Linked DNA regions of Homo sapiens. Changing the gene in region 2 together with the main gene of any one other region gives a genetic interaction. Each region holds a gene or a part of one and is shown on either strand. Other genes may lie near its edges.

The links.
Region 1: changes in EXOC1 (region 2) and STXBP6 together harm fitness more than expected from each alone (negative genetic interaction), as found in Homo sapiens cells (one study listed by BioGRID).

What each region holds. Positions count from the first base shown.
Region 1 is NC_000014.9:25,047,134-25,054,730, forward strand, and holds the start of STXBP6 (syntaxin-binding protein 6), read right to left. Parts: upstream 3,015-7,597; 5' UTR 2,745-3,014; exon of another isoform or gene 2,074-2,744; intron 1,868-2,073; exon of another isoform or gene 1,827-1,867; intron 1-1,826. UniProt on the Homo sapiens protein: Forms non-fusogenic complexes with SNAP25 and STX1A and may thereby modulate the formation of functional SNARE complexes and exocytosis.
Region 2 is NC_000004.12:55,891,631-55,898,652, reverse strand, and holds part of EXOC1 (exocyst complex component 1), read right to left. Parts: intron 6,109-7,022; coding exon of another isoform or gene 6,100-6,108; exon of another isoform or gene 6,019-6,099; coding exon 5,942-6,018; exon of another isoform or gene 5,941-5,941; intron 5,102-5,940; coding exon 4,873-5,101; intron 1,937-4,872; coding exon 1,753-1,936; intron 1-1,752.

The DNA.
Region 1 (7,597 bases), on a different chromosome or scaffold from region 2:
GTACGTAACCTCCTTTCCACAAATGTCTGAGGTTTCTCCAAAAAAGGAAATGGGGTAGTTTTTAGATTTTATAAATTATAAAGGTCACCAATCCGGCACTACCCAAGGGTGATCTAAAACCTGAGACTACATATTTTACAGTATGAAAAGAAGGGGGAATCCTACCTCTTTGTAAAATACATCCATTTGAAGAGCAATCAGAATTATTAAACCTAGATAATGGTAAGTGGCACAGGCATTGGAACATAAAATGCCTAAGGAGACTTCCCAACACACCCCCAAAGAAACCTTGTCTCTGTATATGAGCTAGTAAAATAATGGCATTTCACAACAAACGTCATCTCTCTTACTATCTCCCACTCCATAAGTTAGTGATTCTATAGGCATGGTCTGTAGCACCATTAGCATCATCTGGAACTAGTCAGAAATGCTAATTCTTGGGCCTTCACCCTAGACCTAGAGAATCAGAGACTCTGGCAGTATAGCCCAACAGTTTGAGATGTAACAAGCCCTCCAGATGATTCTGATCTGAGAACCACTGCCCTAAGATTAGGGAAGATGCTGCACCTGGGGTGGCTCAGGAGCCTGTGTGAACCCTTTTTAACTGAGTGATAATCTCACCTGTTCTTGCCTTCAATTGATACTGGCTTTTAATCTTCATAGACTGATTTCACAGATTAGGATTTGAGTCCTTAGTTCAAGGTCACTATTAGAGGTCAAGTCAGAGCTCCATTCCAGGATCTGCTGACTTCTTCATCAGCCTTGAGTTTCAAACTAAGGCCTTTCTGACCGTGCCAATTCTGGGGCCTAGGACTCTGAATGTTGATAAGGCCACCCCAGTCATCTCCTAATCTACATCATGCTGCCTTCCTCAGATAAATATGAGGACTGGAGCTCCAATTCTTAAAATCAAAAGAGATGGATTTGAGGATAGAGAAAGAAAAAGGGTAAACAGATGCTTCCAAAGGCCCAAGCAACTAAACCACTTGGTGAGGAGTGGACAGAGAGGAGAGAAGACCTAGATGTCTTGTTATAATTAAGAATTAGCTCATTCAAAACAACTGAGTAAAGAGCACAGAGACAATATCTAAGACCTGAATGGTGCTTTTAAAGTTTTCTTAGCTCTTTTCATTTTCATTATCTCATCTGAGTTTACAACAACCCTGCAATGGAGGGAGGTAAGGCCACGATTATCTCCGTTTGACAGAAGAGAAAACTTAAGTTCAGAGTGACTAATCATTTGTCCATCAGCACTGTCATCAGCTGTAAAGCTGAAACTTGACCTCAAGTCTGTCTGACTCTAGAACTGTGTAGTGTATCCACATTATGTGATTCGCACATCTAGAAATCGGCCCCAAAGCAGACTACCCTCAAGGAAAAAGCAAAGAGAAAAACAGGCAGCAGAATGGTGAGCCCCTAAATCCTGGCACTTGAGCAGTGTGAGGGTGTCCCTTTAAGAACGTAACACACAAACCCAACAGCCAAGGTGTTCAGCCAAAAAAGAAAAAAAGAGAGGCATATTTCTAGCCTGCATAATCATTTCTGGACCGATTCCCACTAGCAGCCTCTGAGACGAACAGCAGCTCACAGCCTCGGCTGAAGCTCCTCCACCCCCAGGGTGGCTCTGACTAGGGCGCAGCTCTGACTAGTGTGCAGGCAAAACCCCAAAACTCAAAACAAGAAGTGAAAAAAGTGGAGCCAGGAAAAATTCGTCGGCATCCTCCACAGCCTTACAATCCGCACAATGCCAGTTCCAGGGTCCTGGGGTCGCCCGGAAGGCAATCTTAGGAGAGGGTGGAATGAGATGGAAGTTCCTGCGGACCTACCGATCCTATTCTCTCCCACCCAGTCCCTAGGGAAGCGTAATAGGAAGGGGAGAAGGTTCGTTATGAAATCCTGGGGCCAGAACCAAGGGCAGATACACCCCGGGGACTTTCTCCTAAAGAACAAGATGTCTTTCCAAATTCTCCACCTGCAGGTCCTGTCCTCTGTGAAGATGAACGGGGTGGGGTGGTGAGGTGGCGGGGTGTTGTAAACCTGAGGAAAGGTTGGAGGGAAAATCAAGCCACCCACCTACTCCAGCCACGTTGCCCGGCGGTGTTGGTGAGGCTCGATGCCGGCGTGCACGGCAAGCGCGAATTCGGAACCTGGCGCCCTTGACCAAGCCTGAGATCGGAAAGGGGGCATCGCCCAGGGCCAGCGCCCTGGGGGCAGGGTGCCGTGCCCGCCAGAAAAGCTCGCCTCAGTTTTGGCAGTAATGATTTTCCTAGAAGATGCCAGAGTTCGCGAAGATCGGAGTGATTCGCGGATTTCTGCGCTCAAGCTAGAGGCGCAGCGACCCCGAGCTCCCCCACACTGGGAGCCTCGGGGCAGCATTCTCGGGGCCCATGCCATCGCGGGGACGGTGCGGAAAAAAAGGCTCCATCCTCAACTTTCTCGGAGGAAATCGCTCCGTTCTGCGGCTTGCCCAATACTGCCCGCACAACGGGTCCCAGGGTTGGAGAGAACCAGGGACACGAGTCCCTCTCTGCGCGCACAAAGCAGCTGCGCCGGGGCGCGCGGCCCCCTCTCCCGCCACCCGCCAACTTGGAAGAATCTCTCTGGGAGCCTGCCTACTCCCCTGGCCTCACAGCCACCCGCCTCGGACGGAGCGCCAGGCGCCCCAACAGCCGTGGCGGCTGCAACCGCATCTCCCGGGCTTGGCCTCCGCCCTGACCGCCTGGCTCCCCTCGCCCCGGTCCTACCGTGCAGCCTGGCTCGCGCCCCTGCCGTGCCAGTGCGCGGCACGCGTCCCAGAGCACGAGGCTCCTCCCCGGGGGGCTGCCCCGCGCGGGGCTCCGGGCTCCGGACAAGGCTTAGCCGGCCCGGGTGCTGGCTCGCCGCCGCTCGCGGCTCCCGCGCCGGCTCCTGCTGCCGCGCGCGAAAAGGGAGGGGTTGGGGGGAAACTCCCGGCAACTCCAACTCCGGGCGCTGGAGCTCCAGCTGCAGCCGCGCGCCCGCCCGCCGCCGAGTGCGAGCGCCTGCGAAGCAAACCTGCCCGCGCGGCCGCCTCTGAGCATGCTCAGTGCCGCCGTGGGCGAGCCCGAGCGCCCTGGCCCGGGGCAAAGAGCAGCGGCTAGGGGCTGGGGGCTGGGGGCCGGGACCCGCGACCCGCCCCAGGCCTCGGAGCGCGGAGGTGGCAGAGGAAGGGAAAGGCCAATGTAGGGGCGGGGGCCCTGAGCCAAAGACCCGGGAGAAACCGATCTGGGTGCAAGAGCCGGTGCGACTTTCACGGCTTGTGGGAAGTTTGTGGGCTAGAAAGGTGGGCTGCTTCTGTGAGCTTCTCTGTGAGACTATATTCGAAAGGACAACCAGGAAACATTTTTTTTTTTCTCTAGGAAAAAACGAATAGACCCAGCCGATGGGTTTTTATCCTGTGCGCTCCTTCCTTTATTCTTACGATAGCAAACTCAAAGATCTAATGGGGCCTGACAGGCACTGTAACTGGGGGAAGGCGAACTGGAGAGAGCTCCGAAGGCAGGGCCGCTTATCTGCTCTCAGGGTCCCTTGCTATCGGGCAAGAATTAGACCTAGTGTTGCTAGATTTTCTGATTTTTCCAGAAATGACGGAGTATATTCATGTACAATATCCTGATTTGTAAAATCTTGATAACAAATTCAATTTTCTCAAAACACCCTGGACTAAACAAAACATATCTGCGTCCCCTCCCTGCTGAACCCCCCAGACAGTGATTTGAGCATTGTGATTCTGCACTCTTTTAGCGAAGTGGTGCTGAGTGCTCACTGTGGTTTGGGAAAGTGCTGGAAAGGATCCAAGATGATTCAGAATATCTTCGAAGTACTACTAGTTACTAGGGGAAATGGGTTTTCCTGACAGTAGAGCGCTACACTTAAATGCTGGAGCGTTCAAGAAGAAAGACGTTACTAATGTAGAAAGCGGTTGTAAGAACTAACTTTTGGGAAACATCATTAGTAAAAGTATCTGTGTGGGGAGTCACTGCAGGGCCGATAACAGTGCCCCGGAAGGCACTTTTGAGCCTGAAGCAATAGGAAAAACCCCTAAACTTACCCTGTCTTTATTTAAAATTTTGTTATTTTTCATCATGCATTTTTGATATTAATTTTGATTTTTTTAAATATTCCATTAAAATATTAACCTTGATTACTGAATTCTTTGGTGAACCTTTAAGTGCTGTGACTCACCTCACCCTAGCCTGGCCCTGTTGGGGTGTTAGATGGTGGTACACAGACCTGCTTGTTTGGAGTGCAAGGGGTAAGCATTAGCATAGTGAAATAGGAAAGAGGGTTTGAGCTGTGGATGGGGGCTCAGGCAGAAGTCCTGACTGTCAGTCTGTGGCTCCTGCACTTAGTTTGTAGACTACGTGGAGATAGCAGAGATGCTGGGGGAGGAGACAATCCGAACTGAATTCTGTGAAGATGGACAGGGCAGCAGACCCAGGAAGATGGTTTGGAGGGGAAGAATGGGAGAAACGGGGATACCTAGGATATCATAAAACTGATACCCTAGGTATCCCCATTTGGTAGCTACAGTTTTATGAAAATCAGAGAAAATTGCCTGAAAAAGTAAGTTTCTTTTGCTCTGCCTATCTCTGTAGAGACATGTCATGGGGCTACCTTAGTGCCAATGAGTAGTGTGCCGGGGTCCTGGTCTTAACCTCAGCCATTTCCCTACCAGGCTTCCATGGGCAAGTGGCTCAACCTCTAAGCTTCACTTTCCTCATCTGTGGAAGGGAAAACAATTCTCATGGCGTTTTTGTGAGAATCCAAAGAAATGTATGTCTAAGGGCTTTGAAAATGTTGAGAGTTCTTACCTACAAGTCATCTATGTAAAATTTGAATTGAAATAAGGGCCTTTTTGCTTGACAAAAGCTCTAAGTAGCAAGCTTCTTTAATTTAGCAAGCCTTTCTAATGTGTTGGGATGATATTTACAAAACTTTGGAATCAGCTTTTGGGTAACTCAATAATTTTGTGAAGTAAGATACTACTGTACTAGCTTCTATTGCCAGTCATCTCCCTCTACTACCTTCCTTTTTTATCTTCACTTGCCTCTTTTTGTTCTCAATATTGCAGATCTAGTCAAGAGGACTCTCTCCCTCTGTACAAAGTGTTCTCTAACTCATGTACCGGTCATCACGGTAGTGTCTGCCTCAAACACCTGGGACCTACCTTAGTGTGGGAGGTGATTCTCCCTGCAGGTAACCTAATTTGTTGCTGCATTCATGGAGAACAAACCACTGCTTATCTATGGGAAGCATTTTAAGCATGCAGACCTCTCAAAGAAAACAAAAACAAAAACAAAAACAAAAAAGACCGTGGATGTTTAAACAAGAAGCCTTCCAGAAGTCATGTAAAGGAGGAAGTACCTAGCCCAGGATCTGTCACATAACAAGTAGTTACAAATATTTGCAGAATAAATAGCAATTTCCATCGTCAAAGTCTTCTGCATCTGTTTCACCTCCCACAGTGCCTAGGATTTTTTTTTTTTTTTAATCACAATAATGGTAAGGTCATAAAGAAGAACAAGAAGAACAGGAACTAAACATTTATGCAGGGAGAGGTTCTGTACTTTAACAAGTGAAATGCTTTGCTTACATTTTAAATTGTATTTTTAATTCTTGTTAGCAAATAATACATGGTATTTAAAAAAAGTTCAGTGCACAAAAGCTCAGTACAAGGAAAAGCAAGTTTCCCTTCTCAAGAAAGACTAATGTTGCCTGTTTCTTGCATATAGTTATAGAAATACCCTATGCACGTGAGAGCAAGCATAGTCATTTTCTTTTCCATAAAATCTAATCACAAAATGATAGAACTGAAAAAGACCTTATGGTTCATCTAGATGTTAAGTTAGAGGCTTTTAAATTGCTATTCTGGGAAAGAAAAGGAAAACCTAAAAGCGATCTTCCCTGTTTCATAAGTAAGCTCATGATTGTAAGGATGCCAGATCACGTGGCAAAACCCTCCATGTGAACATTAATCACATTAAGTGATACAAGGGAAAACTGAGTTCACCTAAAGTTGCCCTGAAACCCATAATGCCCACTGTCGACCTCAACCTAAAACACCCATGGATATAGATGTCTTAGGTTCCCTACGGCTGTTGAAGGAAGTGCTGTCTAAATAACAAATGGAATAAATTGACATGGACACAGAGGGCTTGATCTGGAATTGGGTATTATAATGTGACTATTTTGAACAGCATCTCTTATGCATCATCAATCACAGTATGTCTTCAAGACTAGTAAAGTCTATATTTAAAATTTTTTTTTCTGCTACATGGTGTAGCAAGTAGCTTTTCAAATTCTTCATTCTGATGATGTAATTTCAGATAAGACATTTAGGAAGTCATCAGCTTATTAACTTTTGGGTTGAACCATATGAAACTGCCATTTTTGTTGGTCATAGTTTCTAAAATATTGGAAATTTCAAATGTTCCATCTTCATTATATTCCTCAAAGTTAGTCCTTGTTCTAGAGCTGTAAGAGGACTTCCTTTAAGTTTTTTAGAATATCACATTTTCCTGCAAGAGCTATGTCACTAAGCTAGTTCCAAAAAACCTATTTAATGTTTGTGGTTTGTAATGGTACCAGATTCACATCTGGTCCTAGGAACTGAGCCTATTCTGTTCAACAGGGTCAAGAAAAAGAAATAAATTTCTCTTCCTCTTTTGAGGGGTATAGCACCGGCCTTTCTGGGCCTTGAAATAGGTGAAAATAATAATTATTTTCCTTTCTGCTCTTTTTGCACCTTACTTCTCCAATATTCTCCTGAAATCCTTTTTCCTGTACCTATTGTCCTCATTCTGTCTGGCCTTTTTCTATCTCAATCAGCTTGTCTTTGCTCTTTATTCTTAACAATCAGCATTCATTTAGTATGCTGCAAGTTGGAACTAAGTAAAATAACTTGATTAAATGAATTCACAGTCGTGTGCAAGACTATCTGCCGTTCCAAAGACATATGCAATTTTAAGAGTATCTTGTAGTTGCAAATGAACATTTCCATAAGAAAATTTTGGAGTTTGAAAAATGACTAGAGAAAGAATCCTGGTAGTGAGGGGCAGAAATAATATATTGAGGAGCAGGAACATTTGGTTCAGTTCCCCATTTTTATACATTTTGTAATTTCTTCTCACCCTTTTACTTTAAAAATATGGATTCTTTTAAAGTTTAGGATTTCATTTTGACTTTCACAATGGCTGTCTTGCCAGTAGCAGTGAGCACCTCCAGACTAGGGAGAGGTCTGCGCCTACTGTATGTATGTGCCATTTGTAAATTGGGAATGAAATGTGTCGCTTCTGGTAACATCGGTATGATGGGATCTGGGAGACCTTCGGAATTCAGATGGGCTTATGGAGCTTATATTTGGGACCCTATTCTGTTTCCTATACAATTACCCTTGGTCTGTGGTTTTATCCTTTAAGGGTTCTAGCTGTCTATAACTGGAGTCCACCTTCTTTTTTGACTGAGGTGACATGGTCCACATTTTATCTCTAATTTACTAAACATATAGTTCCTTCTCTGCTCTGCTTTTAAGAGTCAAGATAAATATTGACTGCTGATATCAAATTTGGTGAGCTTT
Region 2 (7,022 bases):
AGAGGGACAGGGAATTTAAAAGTTTGGAAGAATAAAAATTTAACATTATCTCTGTACAACAAGATTAAAAATGATCTTTACTTTCTTCTTGATTTGAAAATTCTATTCGCTGATTTTTGGGGATAAATAGTTATTTATGTTTCAGGTCTTGTACTGGCTAGCACTTCAATAACAATGCTAAATAATAAAGGATCTAACAATACTTCTGCTTTAAATTCATTTCAGAGGGAATATCTCTACTGTTGCAGTTAAGTATCATGTAACCTTTAGGCCTGAGATAGATTTTTTATCCAATTAAAGGAATATCTGTCTGTTCTTAAGTTTTATAAGTTTTAGTTTATAAAGATTTATAAAGAACGAATAATGAATTCATTCATTCATTTATTATTTATTTTTAAGACAGGGTCTGGCTTTGTCATCCAGGCTAGAGTGCAGTAGCATGAACAAGGCTCACTGCAGCCTTGACCTCCTGAGCTCAAATGATTCTCCTGCCTCAGCCTCCTGTGTAGCTGAAACTCAGGGACACACCACCACGTCTGGCTAATTTTTTAAATTTTTTTTGTACAGACAAGGCCTCACTATGATGCCCAGGCTGGTCTTGAACTCCTGGGCTCAAGCGATCCCCCAACTGGTCCTTCCAAAGTGCTGCGATTACAGGTGTGGGCCACTGTGCCTAGCCACATTACTTTAGAATCAGATAAAGCAAAGCTACTTTGAATTTTAAAAGAAAAAATCAAGGCTGGACACGGTGGCTCATGCCTGTAATCCCAGCACTTTGGGAGGCCAAGGCGGGCAGATCACTTGAGGTCAAGAGTTTGAGACAAGTCTGGCCAACATGGTGAAACCCTGTCTCTATTAAAAATACAAAAATTAGCCAGGCGTGATGATGCCTGCCTATAATCCCAGCTACTTAGGAGGCTGAGGCAGCAGAATTGCTTGAACTCGGGAGGTGAAGGTTGCAGCGAGCCGAGATTATGCCACCGCACTCCAACCTGGGCAACAATTGGTGAGATGATTCCATTTTCTATCAATTTTTTAGCTTTTACAATTCCTGAATATATGCAATCAGATCATTTATTTCAGATGAAATGACATGTCCAGACTTTTCTGTAACTTAATTGTGGGATCTGACACAGGAAGAAAGCGAATTACAGTATTTCAGCACTAATTTCTCTTGTATTTTAGTACTAATTTCCTTGTATAGTAGATATGAAAAACTGAGTCCTAAATAAGTGAATTGATTTGCTTAAGGTTACACACACATCACAGCCCATCATCTCTAGAAGACCACTTGTTAAAATGCAAATGTAATCTGGAAGGTCATGTTTTTGTGTTTAAAAAATGATTTTCTACAAAAAATTAGCAGGGCATGGTAGGGTGCACCTGTAGTCCCAGCTACTTGGGAGGGTGAGGTAGGAGGATCTTTTGAGCCTGGGAGGTGGAGGTTGCAGTGAGCCAAGATCATGCCACCGCACTCCAGCCTGGGCGACAGAGTGAGGCCCATCTTAAAAAAAAAAAAAAAAGATTTTCAATTTTGCATAGTCATAAGCCCACATAAACCCTAAAATGTAAGTGGTTCATAATGAATACAAATAGGTTTTATTTTCCAAATTCAAGAAATCTTTAATGTTAGAAAACCTAAAAAAGATTATAAGATATACAAAATAATGAACCTATCTGCTCCCGATTTCTTAGTTACCAGAAATAAAAACAATAGCTATAACAATTCTTTAGAACATAACAAAAGCTTACCATTAACAAATACTCCTCTGATAAGTTTGGTGTATGCTTTATCCAGGTCTCCACGACGCTCAGCATTTTTGAAGATTGATTCTGCAAGTCCAGCAAATTCTTCAAATTCAGCAACAAATGGAAGAATTCCAACTTTACTCTTTTTTGAGATCTTTACTTCTTCCATTTGCCTTATTTGGTTACTCTAAAGTTAGGCAGAGAGCAAGGGAGATAAATAACCAAGCAACTTTAAAACTACATATAATCATAACAAAATATATAGATGGAGATATAGATATATACATAGATATCATAGAGGCAGGATATTATGTGGTACCTAGAACACTTTGGATGCTTACTAATTGAAGATGAATCAAAACAAGGATAACTAAGAAAAACTAATTCTATAGATAATAAAACCATTTTACAGTAAGTTTAAGAAAATCAAAATAATACAGATTATTTAAAACCATCTATAAGCTGGGGACGGTGGCTCATGCCTGTAATCCCAGCACTTTGGGAGGCCAAGGTGGGTGGATCGCTTGAGGCCAAGAGTTCAAGACCAGCCTGGCCATTTTCGTCTCTACAAAAAATACAAAAAAAAATTAGCTGGGTGGGGTCGTGCATGCCTGTAATCCCAGCTACTTGGGAGGCTGAGGAATGAGAATTGCTTGAACCTGGGAGGCAGAGGTTGCAGTGAGCCAAGATTGCGCCACTGCACTCCAGCCTGGGTGACAGAGCAAGACTGTCTCAAAAAATAAAATGAAACAAAACAAAATACAATCAAGGCCGTGAACTTCAAGTCTCTGTACAAAGTAAAAACAGTCAACACACATTTCTACCATTTATGAAAGATGAGTACAAGGCAATTACTGATTTTAGGTTACAGGAGAGAAGATTCCAGAGCACCTATAGGATCCCTCCGGGTAACTTCTGGTTGGTGGCCACGTGGTCAAGTTTGAGAACCACAGTCATTTCCAATTTTCGTCAGTCTAAAATTTCTGTCTGGATAGACAAACTCTCTATTTTCAGAGTACAGAAACAAAGAGGGAGGATAGGCATTTCCATATGGATTTGCATTATTTAATTTTCCATATATTTATTAGTCACTTAGCCTTAGTTCCACAAACTGCTTGTGCATTATATGACAAAATGCGAAAGAAATGTTTCATGCAGACAGAATCTTAGGTTCAAAACGATCCACGGATTCAATTATGGTTCTATGATTCTGAAGGGATCTAAATCTACTCAGTAGGAATGATTACACTGCCAAATACTTTTGTATTATTTCAGCTTCTACCTAACATTTCATTGTGTTGAGATTTGGGGAGTATAACTCAAAAACCATATGACACATGGATTAGAAAAATAATTATCTCTAGGCTTCTGACATTAGTATAAGAAAACCCTAAGAGTATAGTCAGTTATTTCATATTATCTGTACTAATGTTCTACTTCATCAGTATTGGTAACTGTGAGGTGAAAAACAGATGCAGTAGAAAAGGTAGTGGTAAGATTGCAGGTACTAGAACCAGACTTTCTGGGTTTGAATACAAGATCCATATTTTTTAACTGTGGACCTGGGGAAAGTAACTTCACCTCTCAAACAATCTACCTTATTGAGGGGCTGGGTTTAAGATTAGATGACATAATGTGTGCAAAGTGCCCAGACTTGTGCCTGGTACACAGTAAGCACTCATTTATAAATGCTGTCTATTGATCTTATTGACCAGTGTTCATAAATGAGAGATAAGATCTTATCAAAAATAAGACATTATTGAAATAAGATATACAGAAGTATGACAGGCAGAAGAAACCACCCTCCTCTTCAGTGGCAAACCTATGTCCTTTATATATATATATGCAACTTATGAGAAAATATGAATTTATATCTTTGTCTAGATTACCTTCTCTAGTGCCATGCCTTGAGAAGTGTTCATGAAGCATTTTTTAACCTGGCCTAGCCCAATTCATACATACAAGTATAAAAAATGTAATGGATAGATGGCCGGTGTCTCTTGCTTGTAATCTCAGCACTTTGGGAGGCTGAGGTGGGCAGATCACCTGAGGTTGGGAGTTTGAGACCAGCATGACCAACATGGAGAAACCCCATCTCTACTAAAAATACAAAACTAGCAGGGCGTGGTGGCGCATGCCTGCAATCCCAGCTACTCGGGAGGCTGAGGCAGGAGAATCACTTGAACCCAGGAGGCGGAGGTTGCGGTGAGCCGAGATTGCACTGTTGCACTCCAGCCTGGGCAACAAGAACGAGACTCCATCTCAAAAAAAAAAAAAAAAAAAAAAAAAGTAACAGATAGTAAGAAAGTTGTCAAATTTTTTTCTATTAGGAGGAAAATGATAATTGCTCAGTTATAACAATTTATTCCTAAAATAAAATACAATTATTAAAGCTACTAAACTATTAAAATAAATTAAATAATTAAAATAATCAAATTAGTTTTCTTACTAGAATGTATTAAAAGAAGAACAATAACAATAAACCCAAATGATTGTTTCAATTGTTTCATTAAATCAATGGTCATTGACTAATAAACTGAGATGTCAGTGATTCGGTAGATTTTTTTTTTTTTTTTTTTGACACAGTCTTCACTCTTGTCACCCAGGCTGGAGAGCACTGGTGCAATCTTGGCTCACTGCAACCTCCACTTCACAGGTTCAAGCAATTCTCCTGCCTCAGCCTCCCGAGTAGTTGGAATTATAGGCATGTGCTACCACGCCCGGCTAATTTTTGTATTTTTGGTAGAGATGGGGTTTCGCCATGTTCTCCAGGCTGGTCTCGAACTCCTGACCTCAGGTGATCTGCCCACCTCGGCCTTAAAAAGTGCTGGCATTACAGGTGTGAGTCACTGCGTCTGGCCTCCAGTGGATCTCTTAAGCAACTGGTGCCACTGTGCCACTTCCTCCAGAACTTGCCAAGATTCACAGTGTGGAATGGAAACTAGCTGGCATAGTGCCACCCAACTAACTCTGTTCATGTAGATTGTTGCCATGCCCTGCTTCGAGGGACATAAACAACAGATTCCCCAACAGAAAGCTGGAAATCCCTCGATTTTAAATACATTTACCTATATTTTGCAATGACTAGGATGCTAAGGTATTTTTTTAAAAAAGAAAACTTACAATGCATTTGTCAAAGTTCCTTTTGACAGTCACCAAAACATTTCCCAATGTAGTACTTAGGAAAGAAGCAGGGTCCACATTTTGTGCAGTCCACACATGATGACTCATTTTGACTAACATATAAAGAGAGTTAAAGCTATCAATTTTGTCTCCTAATGCAATTAGGTTGTTCAGCTCTGGCTCAATGCAGCGAAATATTTTAATCATCATTTGGCGGATCATATCTTTCCTGTTCAGAAAACAGACAAGAAGTATAAAGTTATAACAAGCTTCAGGTGAATTCACCGTTAACTTTAATCCACTGGGTATATACAAAAGGACAAAAATACCATAATTAAATTTCAATTAAAAATGTCTAAATAGCCAGGCGTGGTGGCTCACGCCTGTAATCCCAGCACTTTGAGAGGCCAAGGTGTGCAGGTCACCTGAGGTCAGGAGTTCAAGACCAGCTTGGCCAACATGGTAAAACCCTGTCTCTACCAAAAGTACAAAAATTAGCCAGACGTGGTGGTGCATGTCTGTAATCCCAGCTACTTGGGAGGCTGAGTCAGGAGAATCGCTTGAACCCGGGAGGTGAAGTGCAGTTGCAGTGAGCTGAGATGGCGCCATTGCATTCCAGCCTGGGCAGCAGAGGGAGACTCCATCTCAGAAAACAACAACAACAAAAAACAAATAAAAATGTCTAAATATGATTATAGTAGTTTTTGATATAAAAATATTTTACTGATGTTGGGTTTTATCATTTGAATTAGTTTTAATTTGTAAAGCTGGGTCATGAAATGTGCTTTGTGATTTCTAAGAAATACACTACAATTCAAAGGCTTCCCCCTACCAGCAAACAACAGACTGACTTCATCTTCTGTAAGTCCTGGAGCAAGGAAGAGTTGAAGAGCCATAAAATAGGCCCTATTTTAAATCAGTAAAACGTTTGATAAGACAATGGACACACATGCTGGTACTGTGAGTGCTGTCAGGCTACTGAGAAACATCTAGACCCCTCAATGAGCAGCACTCCACATTTTAAAGTTTATTTTTTCCAAAATAAACAATGATAGTAACAAAGACATACTCAGATGAAACAGGCAGTGGTGTGCCACAATTATGTTGCCGTGATAATGTTCCTCCATCCAGGTCCTCTGCTTCAGCCTGCAAAAATTATTCAGGCACTTTACATAATAAAAGACCAACAATTTGACTAGTATTGATATAGCAAAAGCCTGCTCAGTCTTAAAATTCCTAGGAAAGAATACATTATGAAAAATATTTTTAAAGGTAGCATTATGATAAAGCTAGCTATATAATTTAGTATGCTATTTAAGAATGTTCATGAGATACTCTTCTTAGGTTTTATCCAAGAACTTTTGTGGGGTGAGAAGTTGTATTTGTGTGTGCACCTGAGGGGAAGTAGGGAGGTACAGGAAGCTGAACGCAAGGTGTGGGAGTGGGGGCAGCTTGACAACAACCACCACAAAAATAGAAAACGTCCAAACACAACTTTCAAAAGAGAATTTAAAAAATTAAGGAAATCTCATCAATTATTCTAATAGAACTTCAGCATTAAAAAAATGCTATAAAAAATTCTTACAGAGGCCAACAAATAAACAAATTTGCCACCATTACTACCATAACAATGAACACTCTAAACCATTTATCATAATCCATTTCTCATTTATTTTATGACTGCTTTTATAAGTTGGTTGTCTGTGGCATACAATTTTGAGATGATAATTTAAAAAACACTTTATTTGCACTGTTTTTAAGTTCTTCAAAATACTCAAGAAACTCTCTCATCTTATTCTCTTATATGTATGCTACCAGAAAGGCATGCTGAATAGGCACTATGATATCTACTTTACAGAAGAGGAAAGCTGGGGATCGAATAACTGGCTTAAGATCTCATGGCTAGTTAGTAACAAAGCCACAAGGAAGGCAAATCTGAGGCCTCATTTTCTTTTATTTATCATTATTGTTATTTGGTATACCAAAGTGTATACACTCTAACATCATTTTAAAACATTATATTTATCTTGATGACTACTAAAATGTTAAACTAGCCTTTTAAATAATGTTCTTTGCAAAGTAAACTCAGACATTCCTCCCCCCACTAATTTAGAGAATATTTAGGCTTGTAATATTCTGAAATATTAAAT